Linked DNA regions of Homo sapiens: region 2 is linked to region 1. Evidence: fine-mapped expression QTL. A gene starts in region 1. The other region holds a variant in brackets. All regions are shown on one strand. Distances are between the middles of the regions. Region 1 holds the start of IFITM5 (interferon induced transmembrane protein 5). Region 2 holds the start of LOC124902603 (a long non-coding RNA gene).

Evidence for each region. PIP is the estimated chance that this variant, and not a neighbour inherited with it, causes the effect.
Region 2: its variant is fine-mapped to the expression of IFITM5 in minor salivary gland (GTEx, PIP above 0.99).

What each region holds. Positions count from the first base shown.
Region 1 is chr11:295,918-304,222 of GRCh38, forward strand. IFITM5 (interferon induced transmembrane protein 5) reads right to left here and starts at 3,609. Exons shown (of 2, transcript NM_001025295.3): 1 at 3,388-3,609; 2 at 2,283-2,796. The coding sequence starts at 3,573. The coding sequence ends at 2,584. It overlaps PGGHG (protein-glucosylgalactosylhydroxylysine glucosidase), which reads left to right. Exons shown (of 14, transcript NM_025092.5): 14 at 1-190. It also overlaps the pseudogene MRPS24P1. RefSeq lists an enhancer at 2,780-2,939.
Region 2 is chr11:653,381-661,701 of GRCh38, forward strand. It overlaps DEAF1 (DEAF1 transcription factor), which reads right to left. Exons shown (of 12, transcript NM_021008.4): 11 at 582-671. LOC124902603 (a long non-coding RNA gene) reads left to right here and starts at 1,643. Exons shown (of 2, transcript XR_007062543.1): 1 at 1,643-2,187; 2 at 3,594-5,724. The variant G/A (reference allele first, on the strand shown) is at 3,560.

The sequences.
Region 1 (8,305 bases):
GAAACATCTTTCAGGCAGCTCTAGGGTCTGGGGGCCAGGATGCCTGGGTCTCCCAAGGCCTGTCTGCTGTCTCTGCCACCCTCAGCGGCTGCCAGAAGCAGCGTGTGGGGGAGGCATGTGCTGCAGCACACCTGCGGCCGAGACCAGCACTCAGAGGTCGGCTCCCCTGACAGGAACCGTGTAGGGTGCAGAAGGCTGAGACCTGTGGACACTGCGTGTTTTATGGCAGCTTGCTTGCTGGGGCTCATGGCCACAGTGGAGAGGGGCCGTGGGTCAGGGCAGCCCAGTGTGCAGTCCAGTGCCGGGCAGGAGTCTTGCAGGGGCTCATGACCACAGTGGAGAGGGGCTGTGGGTCAGGGGCAGCCTGGCGTGCAGTCCAGTGCCGGGCAGGAGTCTCACAGGGGCTCGTGGCCACAGTGGAGAGGGGCTGTGGGTCAGGGGGCAGCCCGGCATGCAGTCCAGTGCCGGGCAGGAGTCTCGCAGAATGCAGCCTGACGCCTCCACGTGGCTCCCCCGGCCCCTACAGGCTCCCTCAGCTGCAGAGCTGGGTCCCATCCGACGCTGTCGCTGGGCAGCGAGAGGCAGAGGCAGGTTCCCCGAGGGAAGCATGGGCCCCTTCTCCCGGCCACGGTTGCCCCAGCAGGAGTTCATCTTTGCAGCCCCAGAGCCAGGGTGATGTGGGCACAGGTGTCAAGTCAGGGTGGTCGGTAGCCTTGCGCCCGCAGGAGAGATATGGCCTGAAGCCTGCTGCACGTGCGTGCCACACGCGTGTGGGGCCACCTCTGCACATCCTGAGGTGACCCTTTTGGGGGGGTCGTGATGGTCAGTGCACGTGTGCCGGCAGGGCTGGTCAGGGTTCATCGCCTGCCCAGGAGCCTGAGCCTGAGGCAGGGAGGTGCTGGTGACCGTTCCCCCAAGGTGGCTCACCCACAGCACCGGGAATGGACCAGGTCGTCCCTGCCCCTCAGTAAGCCTGGGGACTGGCAGACCGTCTCTTTTCTGGGGACACGTATCCAGCCACACATGGGCTGACCCCCTCCCAGTCTCTGCACCCGACACAGTTTGATCCCTTCTCAGGCCAATCCTGAGGCTCAGGGCTGGCACACTGTCTCTATCCCAAGGCAAGCACAGGTGGGCACACTGCCCTTGTCCTTGGTCCACTGTGGGACTGGTCCTGTCTGTCTCCAGCGCCCAGCATGGCCTCCACACACCTCTGCCTCCAGGGCTGGCTGGGCCTGCCCTCAGAGTCCCTGCCACGCCAGCCGTTGGCTGCAGGCATATCACAGATAGGGGATGCTGCCCAGGGCTCCGAGTAGACCAAAAGATTCCTGCCCACAGCCCAGGAAGAGCAGGCAGGCAACGGCGATTCCCCGGGAAGGGAAGGGCCCCGGAGTGGGGTGCTCAGAACCCTGGGCCACTGTGCTGTTAACCACCACCTCCCGGCAATGGCTGGCCTCAGCGAGGCCCCAGGGCCTCCCCGCAGCCTCGCAGTGTGCATGTCCCTGGCCCTCTCCCATCACCAGGCTGTGGTGGGTGTGTGGGGAGGCTGTGGTACACAACGCAGGTAAAATAATATGAGAACATGCACCCAGCACCAGGGGACTCAGAGAATGTTGCACACATGCCCATTTTCTGCCTTTCTGGATATAGTTTGGTTGGGGTGTGTGTGTGTGTGTGTGTGTGAGAGAGAAAGGGAAGCTGCTATCCTTCCCACATGTGTTTGTGTGTGTGTCCAGCCCCACCCATGGGATCGTCCCCGCCCTGCCTTTCTAGCCACCCTCACTGGCCCAGGAGGGAGGGAAACCACCGTGGGGACTGGGATTTCTCAGAATTAAGGGGGCACGCAGGGTCATGGGGACAGACAGAATGACCCAGAAAGGAAGGAGGTGTACACCAGACCGCAGATGGAGCCCACCCACAGGCACGGACTCTCACGCAGACTTCGAGCACGCACACACATGCGCACAGAGAGATGGGGTGGACACACGTGGGGTTGGGACGCACCCATGATGTTCTGGAGCACAGGCCGCTAAACCACAGAGCAGCAGAGATCAAAGGCCTGGGCTCTCAAACTTAGTCTAAAATACTCTGGGCCTCCGCCCCGTAAGCCACAGGCCGCCCAGTGGCTGAGAGAAGGGGACAGTTGGGGCCAAGCAGGGCTGCTGAGCTGCGGGGGGCGCTCCCGCCACTGACTCTGGGGGCTGGCCCTGTGGCATTTGGCTTTGGTGGTCCCTAGGGCAGCTCCTTCCCCCACGCTAGGCAGGAAAGAGGCCAGGAGGCACTTTCTGGAACCAGGCACTTTTAATCGTGGAACCGAGGGGCCTGGAGTGTGAGGAGGGAGGGGCAGGATCGGGGGCAGAGTTAGGGCCCGGGAACTCTCGGGTTAGGGTGAAGACCCCGGGGTCTGACTGGTTCAGCCTTAGGTGCCCATGTTGGGGCTGGAGGGCCCCAGGATCAGGATGGGGCAGGGATGGAGGCCCCACAGAAGGAGGGCCAGGCTCCGGGGAGTCAGTATTGGGCCCCAGGGGCAGCAGCCTGGGGTCAGTGTCCTGGGGCTAGTGCCCCAGATCAGGACCCAGCCTGTCAGTCATAGTCCGCGTCATCAAACTTGGTGCTGAAGAAGGCGGCAGAGTCCTTGGCCAGCCGGGCCAGGTGCAGGGCACCAGTCACCACCAGCCCCAGGAGCAGCAGTGGCGGCACCAGCGTCCACATCGCGGCCAGGATGTTGTAGCACTTGGCTTTGGAGCCAAAACGCCGGGCCGCTTCCAGGTCACCAACCACCTTCTGATCTCGGGCCTGCAGAGAGACCAGACCACAGGGCCAGATCTCTATGTGTCCTCGGGGCCTGGGGGCCCTTCCCCACCCACACCCTGGGCACCTGGAAGGCCCCTACTGCACCCAAAATCTGGATGGAGGGGTGTGGCCTGAGGAGATACTCCTTGGGGCCCCAGCTATGGACCCGGGGGCCATCCCAGGCCAGTGTCAGCCTATCAGAGCTCTCTATGGGTGAGGGTCCCCCAGGGTGCTGAGACACCCCCCACCCTGCCAGCCAGGAGCTGAAGTCAAAGGGACCTCTGTTCCAGAAGCCCACAGCATGTGAACCCCCTCTTGATTGCAGAGACCTCTGTGGGTGCCTCCCAATGGCCTCTGTGCTCTTGGATGGGCCAGACCCCGTTAAGAAGAGGCCCCCCGGCCTTGCCTTCGTGAGGAGCTCTTTCCCGGCCATACTGATAGCTGTGCCCACAGAGCCCCTCACGGACAAGCAGAGCCCCCCGCGGCCCCCAGCACGGCAAGGACCCCCCACGGAGCTCCCCATCCCTCCCCCTTCCCCCCACCTTGATGGAGTAGTGGAGCCTCCCCCGCAACCTCGGTAGGGCCCCTGCCCACCTTGATGGAGTAGGCCAGCGCCAGGAAGCCGAGGCAACACAGATTCAGGTAGAGGGTGCTGAACACCGACCAGATCAAGTGGTCTCGAGGCGGGGGGTGCGGGGCCCCCAGTGTGAGGGCTGTGTGGGCACCGGCCTTGCTGGGCGTGGGGGCCCGGGTGTCCTCGCGGGGATACGCCGTGTCCATGGGTTCCAGCGCCGTCTCTTCCACACTCAGACTGGTGCTGGGAGGGTGGGCACCCGCTCACTTATAGCCCTGTCGCCCTCCCGGCCCAGCCCCTCAACGCTATATATAACACAAATTACAGCCTGCGGGCCGAGGGTGCGGCCCGCCCCTTAGCCCCCACCCCAGGGAGCCCCTGTCCGAGGCTGCCTTGGACCACCCAGCAGGGTCCCTCCTGACAGACATCCCATCTGGGAGCCCCCCGCTTGGAAGGCTACGGCCGGGCAGTGGCAGAGACCCCCACCCATCCCCCCACCCCCATCAAAGGCTGCTGGCCAAGTGGGCAGTGGGCAGACCACTGGCCAGAGCCCCCTCCGTCCAGGCCAAGAAGAGTTGGAGGTGTCGCCTCAGGGCCATGGGCCTCATAATTCAGGGATGTACAGGAGCCCCCTCCTCAGAACCAGAGCTGCTGAAACTGCAGCCCCTTCATTCCCAGAACTCAACTCTGCCCCTAACACTCTCAGAGCACCAGCGCCAGGCCCTAGGAGCGCAGGCATCCCTGCAAGGGGGACAGGGAGGGCGGCTGTCGGAGGAGGGCGCGAGAGAGAAGGAGAGAACCACATGGGGGGAAAGCCAGGGGGTGCAGCCTGTTAGGAGCCGGCAGGGGAACCCCCAGGGACCAGCAACAGCTGTTAACACTGGTGTCGGGATGCAGGGAGCCTGTGGGCTCCTGTGGTGGACACTCCCCTCAGCCTCCTCGGCTGCCCTCCCTGATCCCAGAATGTCTGTGGTGAGTGGTCCTGTTTAGGGCTCAAGGTCCGCCCCAGTCTTGTCTCTGGCTGTAGATGCCTGTGTGTGCTGACGACTCACATTTATGTCTTCAGCCCAGACTTCCCCCCAAAGACATTGGCTTGGTCCCCAGCTCTGGACACACACACGCAACTCCTGCTCTGTGGACCTCCACCCACGTGCCAACAATAGACCCTGGATCCTCCCTCCCAACCTCCTCTGCCAAGCCTTCCCCGGAGCAGTGGTGGCAACTGCACCGGGCCAGAAGGCTCAGCTTCCCCGTCTCCCAGTCGGCCACACTCCTGAGTGCCCAGGACCAAGCTGCCCTCCCTCCTCCAGGACGCACACTCGCCACCTGCAGGGGATGGTTGGGTGGGGGGTTCCTTGCTGCTGTGCTTGAGCCTGTGAACCCCAAATATCTGAGACAGGTCTCGGTTAATTTAGATTATTTTGCCAAGATTGAGGATGTGCCTGTGACAGCCTCTGGAGCTCCTGAGGATCTGTACCCAAGGTGGTCGGAGCACAGTTTGGTTTTATACATTCTAGGGACACAGGAGACATCAGTCAACATATGTAAGATGAACATTGGTTCAGTCTGGAAAGGCAGGACAATGCAAAGCAAGGCAGGGAAGACTCGAAGTGGGGAGGCGCTTCCCGGTCGCAGGTAGATAAGAGACAAAGGTTGCATTCTTTTGAGTTTCTGACTTGCTTCTCCAAAGGAGGCAACCAGATATATGCATTCACCTCAGTGAGCAGAGGGGTGACTTTTTTTCTTTTGTTTTTGTTTTTTTTTTTTTTTTTGTGAGACAGAGTCTCACTCTGTCGCCCAGGCTGGAGTGCAGTGGCGTGATTTTGGCTCACGGCAACCTCCGCCTCCCGGGTTCAAGCGATTCTCCTGCCTCAGCCTCCCGAGCCGCTGGCACTACGGGCTCCCGCCACCACGCCCGGCTAGTTTTTGTATTTGCAGTCGAGACGGGGTTTCACCATGTTGGTCAGGATGAAAAAAGCTAACTCTGTAAAGTATTTAAAGAGGTTTGTCCTACGCCGAATATGACTGACCACGGCTCATGATACAGCCTCCAGAGTTCCAGCAAACGTGCCAAAGGTGGCTGGGCTACAGCTTGGTTTTATACATTGTAGGGAGACAGAAGTTGCAGGCAAAGACATAGATCAATACAAGTGTCAACGAAAAGAGTCCAACTCTGCGAAATATTTGAAGAGATTTATTCTGAGCCAAATATGAGTGACCATGGCCTGTGGTGCGGCCCTCAGGAGGTCCTGAGAACATATACCCAAGGGGCTCAGGGCACAGCTTGGTTTTATACATTTTAGGGAGACATGAGGTATCAATCAAATACATTTAAGAAATACATTGGTTTGGTCCAGAAAGGCGGGACAACACAAAGCTGGGGGTGGGGGGGGTGGGGGGAGGGGCAGCGGTGTTCCAGGCTATAGGTGAGTTTAAACATTTTCTTGTTGACAATTGGTTGAGCTTGTCTAAAGACTTGGGATTGGTAGAAAAGGAGTGTTCAGGTTAAGATCAAGATTGTGGCCGGGTGCGGTGGCTCATGCCTGTAATCCCAGCACTTTGGGAGGCCAAGGCGGGCAGATCACAAGGTCAGGAGTTCGAGACCAGCGTGACCAACATGGAGAAGCCCCGTCTGTACTAAAAATACAAAATTAGCCAGGCGTGGTGGCGCATGCCTGTAATCCCAGCTACTCAGGAGGCTGAGGCATGAGAATCACTTGAACCCAGGAGGCGGAGGTTGCGGTGAACCGAGATCGCGCCATTGCACTCCAGCCTGGGCAACAAGAGCAAAACTCCATCTCAAAAAAAAAAAAAAAAAAAAAAAAAAGGGCCAGGCGAGGTGGCTCACGCCTGTAGTCTCAGCACTTTGGGAGGCCGAGGCGGGTGAATCATGAGGTCAGGAGTTCGTGACCACCCTGACCAACATGGTGAAACCCCATCTCTACTAAAAATACAAAAATTAGCCAGGCGTGGTGGTGGGTGCCTGAAATTCCAGCTACTCAGGAGGCTGAGGCAGGAGAATCGCTTGAACCCGGGAGGCGGAGGTTGCAGTGAGCCAAGATCAGATCGTGCCATTGCACTCCAGCCTGGGTGACAAAGCGAGAGACTCCGTCTCAAAAAAATAAATAAATAAAAAATAAAGATTGTGGAAACCAAAGTTCTTTTGAAGTCTTATAGTGGCTGCCCTTAGAGACAATAGGTGACCAATATTTCCTATTCATATCTTAATTAATCTCTTCAGGATTGGGAGGGTCTGGAAGAAAAAGATCTGGCTATGTTAACTGAGATTCTTTACAGATGCAAATTTTCCCCCACAAAGAACAGCTATGCAGGGGCCATTTCAAAATATGGCAAAGAAACATGTTTTTGGGGTATTTTGATTTTCTTCCTTGTTTCATAATGTTATGCCAGAGTCAGGTTGGAAAGTAAGTCACGATATATAGGGTTAAATAAAACTCATCTGGTTGGCCGGGCATGGTGGCTCATGCCTGTAATCCCAGCACTTTGGGAGGCCGCGGCAGGCAGATCACCTGAGGTCAAGAGTTCGAGACCAGCCTGGCCAACGTGGTGAAACCTGTCTCTACTGAAAATACAAAAACAAAACAAACAAACGAAAACCAAAACTCATCTGATGAGAATTTACCATTTGTAGGTAAATTCCCCAGACCCCTTTGATAGGAACTTGGGCAAGATAAAAAAGTCAGAGTTTAGTCCTCACGAGTAAGGTGTACATTGCTTCTGCCAGGAAAGGCAAGACATCTCAAAGGGGTGTGGTCACAGGTCACAGTGATACCAGTGGGCTTGGGGAGGTCCCCAATTGCCAGTGGGACCTGGACCCCCACGGGTGTCCAGGCTCTTGGCACAAGAAGAAAATTCAAGGACGAGACCGAAAATAGTGAAAGTAGGGAGATTTGTTGAAAAGTGAAGGCCAGGCGCGGTGGCTCGCGCCTGTAATCCCAGCACTTTGGGAGGCTGAGGCGGGTGTATCACCTGAGGTCAGGAGTTCGAGATCAGCCTGGCCAACATGGCGAAACCCTGTCTCTACTAAAAATGCAAAAATTAGCCGGGCGCGGTGGTGCGTGCCTGTGATCCCAGCTAATCGGGAGGCTGAGGCAGGAGAATCACTTGAACCGGGTAGGCAGAAGTTGCAGTGAGATGAGATCGCGCCACTGCACTCCAGTCTGGGCGACAGAGCGAGGCTCCCTCTCAAAAAAAAAAGAAAGAAAGAAAAAAAAGAGAAGTGAAAAGTACACACTCAAGAAAGGGCCGTGTGGGCGGAGACTCGAGAGAGTCACTTGCAAGGGGTTTGGGTGGGGGTTCCATCTTTCAGGGTTTCTTTCACCAAGCGGGGGAGTATCATGAAGATTCTTGCAAGAAGGTGACGATTTCTCAGAACTGAGGTGCCTTGCATTTTTTTTTTCAAGACAACATAGAGGGTCTTTATTGGATAGCAGCTGAGAGACCATGCCTCAGTCCTCTTGAGGGACGCCTTTCCCCCCGGCGTACCACTTCTTTCCCACGTTTCCCTTCTCTGCAGGCTACAGCTTGATGCAAAAGAAAGGGATCGTCCTACAGGTCCTTATACACAACCTTTGAGGGCACAGTTTGGAGGTGGAGTGGCAGAGGACATTTGTAAAAGTGGGACAGCAAAGTTTCACTGTAGCCCACGAGGAAGTAGAACTTGCGGGCAGGCAAGTGCCTCGGGACCAGGGCACAGATCTCCAACCGGTTGGCCCAGCACTGTAAAACCAGCGGGTCAGCCAGGCAGCCCGGGAAGGCACCCCACATGAACTTGCGACGGAAAGCATCCTCCACCGTTCGCTCCGCCGCATGGTCCTCCCCACCAGGGTTCCCCGCGTGAGCGACCTCTGGCCCTCACGGCGGGCGACGAAGTGCGGCGCGTGTGCGTCCTCATAGGTCACCGGCTTGTCCCCCTGG
Region 2 (8,321 bases), 360 kb after region 1:
GGCTCTGCAGGGGTGTGGAGGGCTCAATAATAGAGGAACTGTGGACAGTCTCTCTCGCGTGGCTCTGCAGGGGTGTGGAGGGCTCAATAATAGAAGAACTGTGGACAGTCTCTCTCGCGTGGCTCTGCAGGGGTGTGGAGGGCTCAATAATAGAGGAACTGTGGACAGTCTCTCTTGCGTGGCTCTGCAGGGGTGTGGAGGGCTGAATAATAGAGGAACTGTGGACAGTCTCTCTCACGTGGCTCTGCAGGGGTGTGGAGGGCTCAATAATGGAACTGTGGACAGTCTCTCTTGCGTGGCTGTGCAGGGGTGTGGAGGGCTGGGAAGCACTGACCAGCAGCCCTCAGGGTTTCCGGCCACCAACTGTGGGGCCTCACATGAGAGCACTACCTGGCCATGTCACATGTGAGCCTTCTGCAGGGTCTTCACGGAGCCAGGCAGGAGCCCCGGATTCCCAGAGGGAGGGACAGGGAGGGGAGTCAGGTGTGGCACCAGGAGCACAAGGGGAGGGAGGGCCACCCAGGGGTCTTCGTAGCGAGGGAGGAGGCGGGGGCACTGAGCCTGGTGTAGGTGAGACCTACCTTGCGTTGGCAGAAGGTGGAGCAGTAGTTGACCTTGTGGCAGCCGGTGCACTCGCTCATAGCCTCCCGGCCGCAGTTAACGCAGGACTGCTGCAAGAAGGACACAACAGGCCAGTCAGTGACGTGGCCGTGGAGAGCCCCTGAGACACCGGGGACAGAGGCAGGTGCAGGCAGGAGGCCCCAAGTTCCCCCCATTGGACCCCCTTTTTTTTTTTTTTTTTTTTTGAGATGGAGTCTCACTCTGTCGCCCAGGCTGGAGTGCCGTGGTGCGATCTCAGCTCACTGCAACTTCCGCCTCCTGGGTTCAAGCAATTCTCCTGTCTCAGCCTCCTGAGTCTGGGATGATAGGTGCCTGACACCACGCCCAGCTAATTTGTGTATTTTTAGTAGAGACAGGGTTTCACCATGTTGGTCAGGCTGGTCTTGAACCTCTGACCTCGTGATCCACCTGCCTCGGCCTCCCAAAGTGCTGGGATTACAGGCGTGAGCCACTGCGCCCAGCTCCCATTGGACTCTTGACTGCGCCTCTGCCCCAGTGCTGCTCAGAACGTTCTTGTCACCTCCAGAATCAGCTCTTTCCTGGCCTCAGTGCAGTTTGCCCCCTACATTCATTCACTGGAAGACCAGTATGGGCCGGGAGCAGCGGCTCATACCTGTAATCCCAGGACTTTGGGCAGCCGAGGCGGGTGGATCACCTGAGGTCAGGAGTTCAGCACAGGCAACGTTGCGAAACCCAGTCTCTACTAAAAATACAAAAATTAGCTGGGTGTGGTGGTGGCCACCTGTAATCCCAGCTACCTGGGAGGCTGAGGTGGGAGAATAGCTTGCACCCAGGAGGCGGAGGTTGCAGTGAACCGAGATTGCACTACTGCACTCCAGCCTGGGTGACAGAGCGAGACTCCCATCTCAAAAAAAAAGGGAAATCAGGGCCGGATGCAGTGGCTCATGCCTGTAATCCCAGCACTTTAGGAGGCTGAGGTGGGCGGATCACGAAGTTAGGAGATCGAGACCATCCTGGCTAACACGGTGAAACCCCGAGATTGTACCATTGCACTCCAGCCTGGGCGACAGAGCAAGACTGTCTCCAAAACAAACAAACAAACAAACAAACAAAAACAAAGGGAAATCAGCATGGAAATCTTTCTCCAAACTCCAAGGAGCTTCACTCCAGCCAGGCCAGCACAGAAAATCAAACTCAGGAGTCCACCGCTCCCAACACTCCTGAGCAGGGCTGTGGGCATCAGCCTGGGCGCACCGTGGCAGGCATGTGTCCCAAACTGCTGCGGCGGTGCCCCAGCCAACACCCCCACGGCCCCACCTGAGCTGGTTTCTGTGGTGGATTGAAAAGATGCCACCAGAGGTTTGTGTACTTTCTCCTGGAATTACATTATTGGAGCTTTTCTTTTTAATCAGCGCATAGGTCAACATGCTGTCAATGATTAATGTTTGCGGCATGACTAAGGTGCTTGACAGTTGTGAGCTCCGCCGTCAATGCTCTCTGAGACGGAGAAGACCACTGGGCCTAGGAGAGGCCTTGGCGCCGCGACCTGCACGCCCGCTATGCGCCCAGATCATCCGCAGCTGCGGGAGGGGCCGTGGCCAGTGGGTGAGTGGCAGCGTCTGTGAGCAGCACAGAGCAGCACAGGAAACGACTCCAGCGCGGCCCCACGGCCCCTGCACGCGTGCAGACCTGCTCCGAGGTTCTGTTCTGATGCTTGCCTCCCTCCTTCGCAAACGTGATCTTTAACATTTTTCCAGTTGTAAGACATTCAGAGCTCCGACATTCAGTCACTCACTTCAGAAAACAGGAGCATTAGGAGGAATTTTGGTGCTAATTTAGGTTGCCCCCTGCCTCTACTTTATTTATTTATTATTATTATTATTTTTTTGAGATGGAGTCTCACTCTGTCGCCCAGGCTGGAGTGTAGTGGCGCAATCTCGGCTCACTGCAACCTCCACCTCCTGGGTTTAAGTGATTCTTGTGCCTCAGCCTCCCCACAGCTGGGACTACAGGCACGGACCACCACGCCTGGCTAATTTTTTTGTATTTTTAGTACAGATGGGGTTTCACCATATTGGTCAGGCTGGTCTCGAGCTCCTGACCTCAAATGATCCACCTGAGTCGGCCCCCCAAAGTGCTGGGATTACAGGCATGAGCCACCGCGCCTGGCCTGTGCCTCTACTTTAAATGACAAACTTTTTTTTTTTTTTTGAGATGGAGTCTCGCTCTGTCGCCCAGCCTGGAGTGCAGTGGCACGATCTCAGCTCATTGCAACCACCACCTTCCAGATTCGAGCAATGCTTCCACCTTAGCCTCTCAAGTAGCTGGGATTATAGGCGCTTGCCACCATGCCTGGCTAATTTTTGTATTTTTAGTAGAGACGGGGTTTTGCCCTGTTGGCCAGGCTGGTCTCGGAAACTCCTGACCTCAGGTGATCCGCCTGCCTTGGCCTCCCAAAATGCTGGGATTACAGGCATGAGCCACCAAGCCCAGCCGACAAAATATTTCTTAAAAAGTCTGTAACCACAGAGAAGCTTCTCGAAGGAGAACACAGCTTCTGCAGGCTTTATTAACATTCTGGGTTGCTCTGTGGATGGCCGGGCCAGGCAGGACCCTGGTCCAGCCCCTCACAGACAGAGGTCAGGTGGGGTGGGAGGCTGGCGGGAGCGTGGTCACTGTCCCGGGGAGCGGCCCCCACGCTGAGAAGGGCACGGGTCTCCGTGTCCAGCAGTCCCTGTGCACCACACACCAGGACGTCCTGTACTTGCCCCCCAGCATAGTTCCTGGAGGACAGCACCCCTGAACTGAACGGGAAGCCTGTCCTGTTGCCTCGCAGGCGCCTCTTCAGCCTCAGCTGGGACTTTCAACCACTTGGGCCTTTCGCGGTATGCCCTTTGCAAAACTTTTTTTTTTTTTTAAACTGAAAAATAACGTTCTAGGAAGGTTAGAAGGAGCTTTGGGGTCTGAATTAGAGTCA[G/A]AGGCAGTAGCATGAACTCATGTTCTCTTCACAGATACAGAAGTGGCTGCGGAGATGTTCATACACACAGGTGACACCCTCATCCCTGCTCTGCAGCTGAACAGGTGACACCCTCGTCCCTGCTCTGCAGCTGAGGGCCTCCACGTGACAACATCCCAGCAGCACCGGACCCACCTGGCACCCACCTGGCACCCAGGCCTCACTCTCTAAGACTTCCCAATAAAAGGACCTGGGGCTCCCTGCCTGGCACCCAGGCCTCACTCTCTTAAGACTTGCCAATAAAAGGACCCGGGGCTCCTTGGAGAAGGGGCTGATTCCCGGGCCAGGGCAGGGAATGCAAGAGGAGGCTGGAGCACCCTGCAGTGCCAGGAAGTCAGGACGTACCCCAAAATGAAAAGTCTGTTGAAAGGGGTGCATCAGGGGACCCAGGAGCCGACGGCAGGAGCTCCCTAGGGCCAAGGACAGATGGTGTGCTTCACAAGAAAGTAGTGTTGCCTTCTAGCTCAGAGTTTAAAACACATATAAAATGAGCCCATCCGGATACAAACAAATGATCAAATAAATAAATACAAGTCCAAGCTATTCCAGATCCTCCCGTCTAGGAGAAGCCCCCCCACGGCCGTGGACTTGCTGCCTGACTAAATGTGCAAAGGGAGAAGCAGTCCTGTCACCAAGGAGACACCTACAGACACCTGACTCTGGTGAGGAAGGTCAGAGCTGTCTGTAATGTCACTTGGATGTCAGGGACGCCACAGTGGGGTGAGACAGGCGGCAGCACCCCTCCCTGAAACCTGTCGTCCACCCCCACGAGAAAGCACAAGACAAGCCTGGATCGGGGCACCTGGACAAACTGCCTGGCCAGGCCCTCTCAGAACTGCAGGGCATGGAAGACAAGGAAAGACTGAGAGACCGTCACAGGCCTGAGGGTGCTGGGCAAATGGTGCACGGGAGGCTGTCTCCCACAGGTGGCAGCGGGGACAAGGTCCTAGAGCAGAAACAGGACATTGATAGTGAAATTCAAAGTCCGGAGTTCACAGGGACACCCAGCGACGGTTTCTCAGCTACAACAGCCATGCCCTGTGGGCTTTGAAGTTACAGAGGGGAGGCTGCGGAGTGGCAGAAGGGACCCTCTGCGCTCACTTTGCAACTTTTCTGTAAACCTAAAATTATCCCGAAATACGTTTATTTTTTAAAATAACCATTCATTAGCCGGGCACGGTGGCTCACGCCTGTAATCCCAGCACTTTGGGAGGCTGAGGCAGGCGGATCACGAGGTCAGGAGATCGAGACCATCCTGGCTAACACGGTGAAACCCTGTCTCTACTAAAAATACAAAAAAATTAGCCAGGCGTGTTGGCGGGTGCCTGTACTCCCGGCTACTCGCGAGGCTAAGGCAGGAGAATGGCATGAACCCAGGAGGTGGAGCTTGCAGTGAGCCGAGAACGCGCCACTGCACTCCAGCCTGGGTGACAGAGCTAGACTCTGTCTCAAAAACAAAAACAAAAAACCATTCATTACTGCGGAAGAGGTGTGTGTGCGTTGCAGAAGGTTAGGACAAGACACCGCGTTTCCGCAGCCAAGGACATCGACAAGTCCCATTCTGCGCTTTCAGGAAACTGTCAGGAAATCACAGGACTGCGGATGGCACAAAGGGCAGAAGTGCCCAGGCCTGCCCAGGCGCCCCAAGAAGCTCATGCTGCCAAGCAGCTGGCATTGCCATTAGCATTCAGAGTTCTCTGGGCCGCAGGCGGGCAGAGGAGGAGACTGCAGCAGAGCACCCTGCGGGGAGTCCCGCCCAAGCAGCGGGTCCAGCCCCTCAGCAGAGACTGCGAAGGGGTTTCCTGGCCTGCCTTCCCTGCTGCAGGGGCCCCCCATCTGCACATCACACAACAGGAACACACCTACTTTTGGCAATGCAATAGCTGGTGTACTCTGGTCCAGGTGGAAAAAAGCCTTGTGAATCACATATGCTGGTTTCATTATAATTGATTTTTAAATTAGACAAATTACAGATAACAAAGCCACTCCTTCAGAAACAGCCAACCAAGAGTAAGACCATAAGATCACATATAAAATGCCTATTAATTTCTAACTATCAAAGAATAAGTTAATAATGTATTCATTATTCTTTCTGCAAATAAAACTAAGTCTAACTTGAAAACCTAGATACTGGCCAGGCATGGTGGCTACACCTGTAATCCCAGCACTTTGGGAGGCCGAGGCGGGAGCATCGCTTGAGCCCAAGAGTTTAAGGCCAGCCTAGGTGACATGGCAAAACCCTGTCTCTACAAAAAAAAAAAAAAAAAAAATTAGCTGGGCATGGTGGCATGCACCTCTTAGCTACCAGAGAGGCTGAGGTGGGAGGATTGCTTGAGCCTGGGAGGTGGAGGTTGCAGTGAGCTGAGGTCACACCAGTGCACTCCAGCCTGGGTGACAGAGGGAGAACATGTCTCAAATGATAAAAAATAATAATAAAAAAGAAAACCTAGACACACCCCGGATGGAGATGAGGCTGTGGTTGGAGGCAGCCTGGTGGATCGTGTATCTTACAAGGAGTGCTTTCTTTATGACTTATTCTTAGAGGATGTAATGCTGCCAGGAGCCTCGATGGAGCCAACTCCGTGTCACCATCACTCCTGAACCAAATGGGGCCACAGGCCCACTGTGCACAGGGGCCTCCGCCTGCTTCAGGGGCCAGGTGATTGGAGGGCGAGTTGGCCTCGGGGTTCAGAGCCGCTGGGAGAACCCTGAGTAGCCTTTGCAGATCCGCTCCTGGGTCTAGTTCCAGAGGCTCCTTTCCCGGCACTGCAGTGAGTTCAGGTGAAGCAGCCGCCTAATTCCACAGGCCCGGCCTCCTCTGGAGAGACAGAGCGGGAGAGGGGAGAGTGAGCAGGAAGCCAGCGGTAGATGGGGCTTCAGGAGAACCTGCTGGACCCTGAAGCCGTGAACCGGAAGCTGGGGAGTCCCAGCGTCACCCTGCATGGAGGCTGAAATACAAAGTCCCCAACACAGGGCAGGTGGGGCCAGGTGGGGCTTGGGCAGGCAGGGCCCAAGGGGCTGCTGCTGTGCACCCTTGAGGTCTGCCCCCGGGACCACTGTGGCTTCACCAATGCCCACCATGGGGCAGAGGGCTCCCCATGACTGTGTCCCGTGAGGGCGCAGCAGCTCAGCTTAAAAGTAAGAGAAATGCAAATTAGACTGGATTACTCTCCCTCGAGGAAGCAACGGAAATAAGAGAAAACCCTCAAAACATCAAGCAGGTTTATCTGAAAGCTGAGCCGCACACGTAAAGAGATCAAAGGATTAGTCTAATAGCATCTTTTTGAGCTGGGACAGAGTTTGCCGTTTCTATGAAATGACCATGATACAGATCTCTGAGGAAGCATCAGACAAATTCAGATTTACAACCTGTCCCCGCCCCTGCCCCAGAAAGCCCACACACCTCATCCCAGGTCAGGCAGGGTCCCCCTGAAGTGGGACTGCAAAGCCACCTCTGTGCTTTTCCCAGGCTGCCCCGCCGGCGCCGCCTCACCCCGTCCCGGGCACCTGGCCGCCCCTCCCACCACAACACCCCTGGCTCCCTCGGGGGACTCCAAGCCTGCATTTCCGGGGGCTTCCACGCTGCTGGGGGGTGCTCTGAAGAGTTCCCTGGGGACACGGGGATGGCGGGCTGCTCCCGAGTATCCCAAAGACGCCAGCAACCCTCGCTCACTGGGCCACGGCAGGACGTTGGTCCAGTCCGGCTCTGGAATCTGATGTTTGATGCGGAACAGGTGACTGAGCTGTCTTGGGTCTGGCCGGGCCTATTTGGCTCACGTGAGTGTTAGGCTGACACTGGAGAACAAGGCAGGCAAAAGCCTTCATTTACAGAAACCCCATACCTGGACTTCAAGGAAATGTCACTGAAACACAAGCCCCTCTCGGCGCTGCTTGAGGCACCCGCGGCCTTACGGTGTTGGGAGAGGCCCCCGCAGGGAAGCGGCTGCTCTGGGGTCTGTCTCCACCCTTCCAGATCCCCAGGCACGGAGGCACCATCCAGGCACAGCACAGACCTATTTCTGAGCTTCCTAGGAGTCAAGGACATTGTTACTGTCCAACTTACGTATTCTTCTCCCTTTCATACCCTTCTGTGCTGTACTATATTTAACACTTTAAAAGGAAGTTAGGGAGACTGGAGAAAGCCTGAGAGCGAGCTACTAGAAACGGGGACAGGCTAGAGGAATGGGGTTTGCGCTCAGGGCAGCATGGCCAACAACAAGCCGGGGCCAGGGCAGTGAGTCCAAGACCCTGCAGCCACTCGGCTGGCTTCCACTGGACACTGTGCCCTTGACAGCCAAGGGCATCTGCTTTTCTGCCTTGTTGAATCTCTGCAGAGCTCATTACATACACACGAATGCAGATTTCCCATGGTTAAAGCTGGCAACAATCCCCTTAATAGCTTCAGCTGGGCTACATTTGATTTTTTTTTTTTTTAAATTCCAGATAAAAGGCCAGGCACCGAGGCTCATGCCTGTAATCCCAGCACTTTGGAAGGCCGAGACAGGTGGATCACCGGAGGTCAGGGGTTCAACACCAGCCTGGCCAACATGGTGAAATACCGCGTCTACTAAAAATACAAAAATTAGCCAGGCGTGGTGGCAAGCGCCTGTAACCCCAGCTACTCGGGAGGCTGAGGCAGAAGAATCGCTTGAACCTGGGAGGCACAGGTTGCAGTGAGCTGAGATCGCACCACTGCACTCCAGCCTGGGCAACAAGAGCGAAA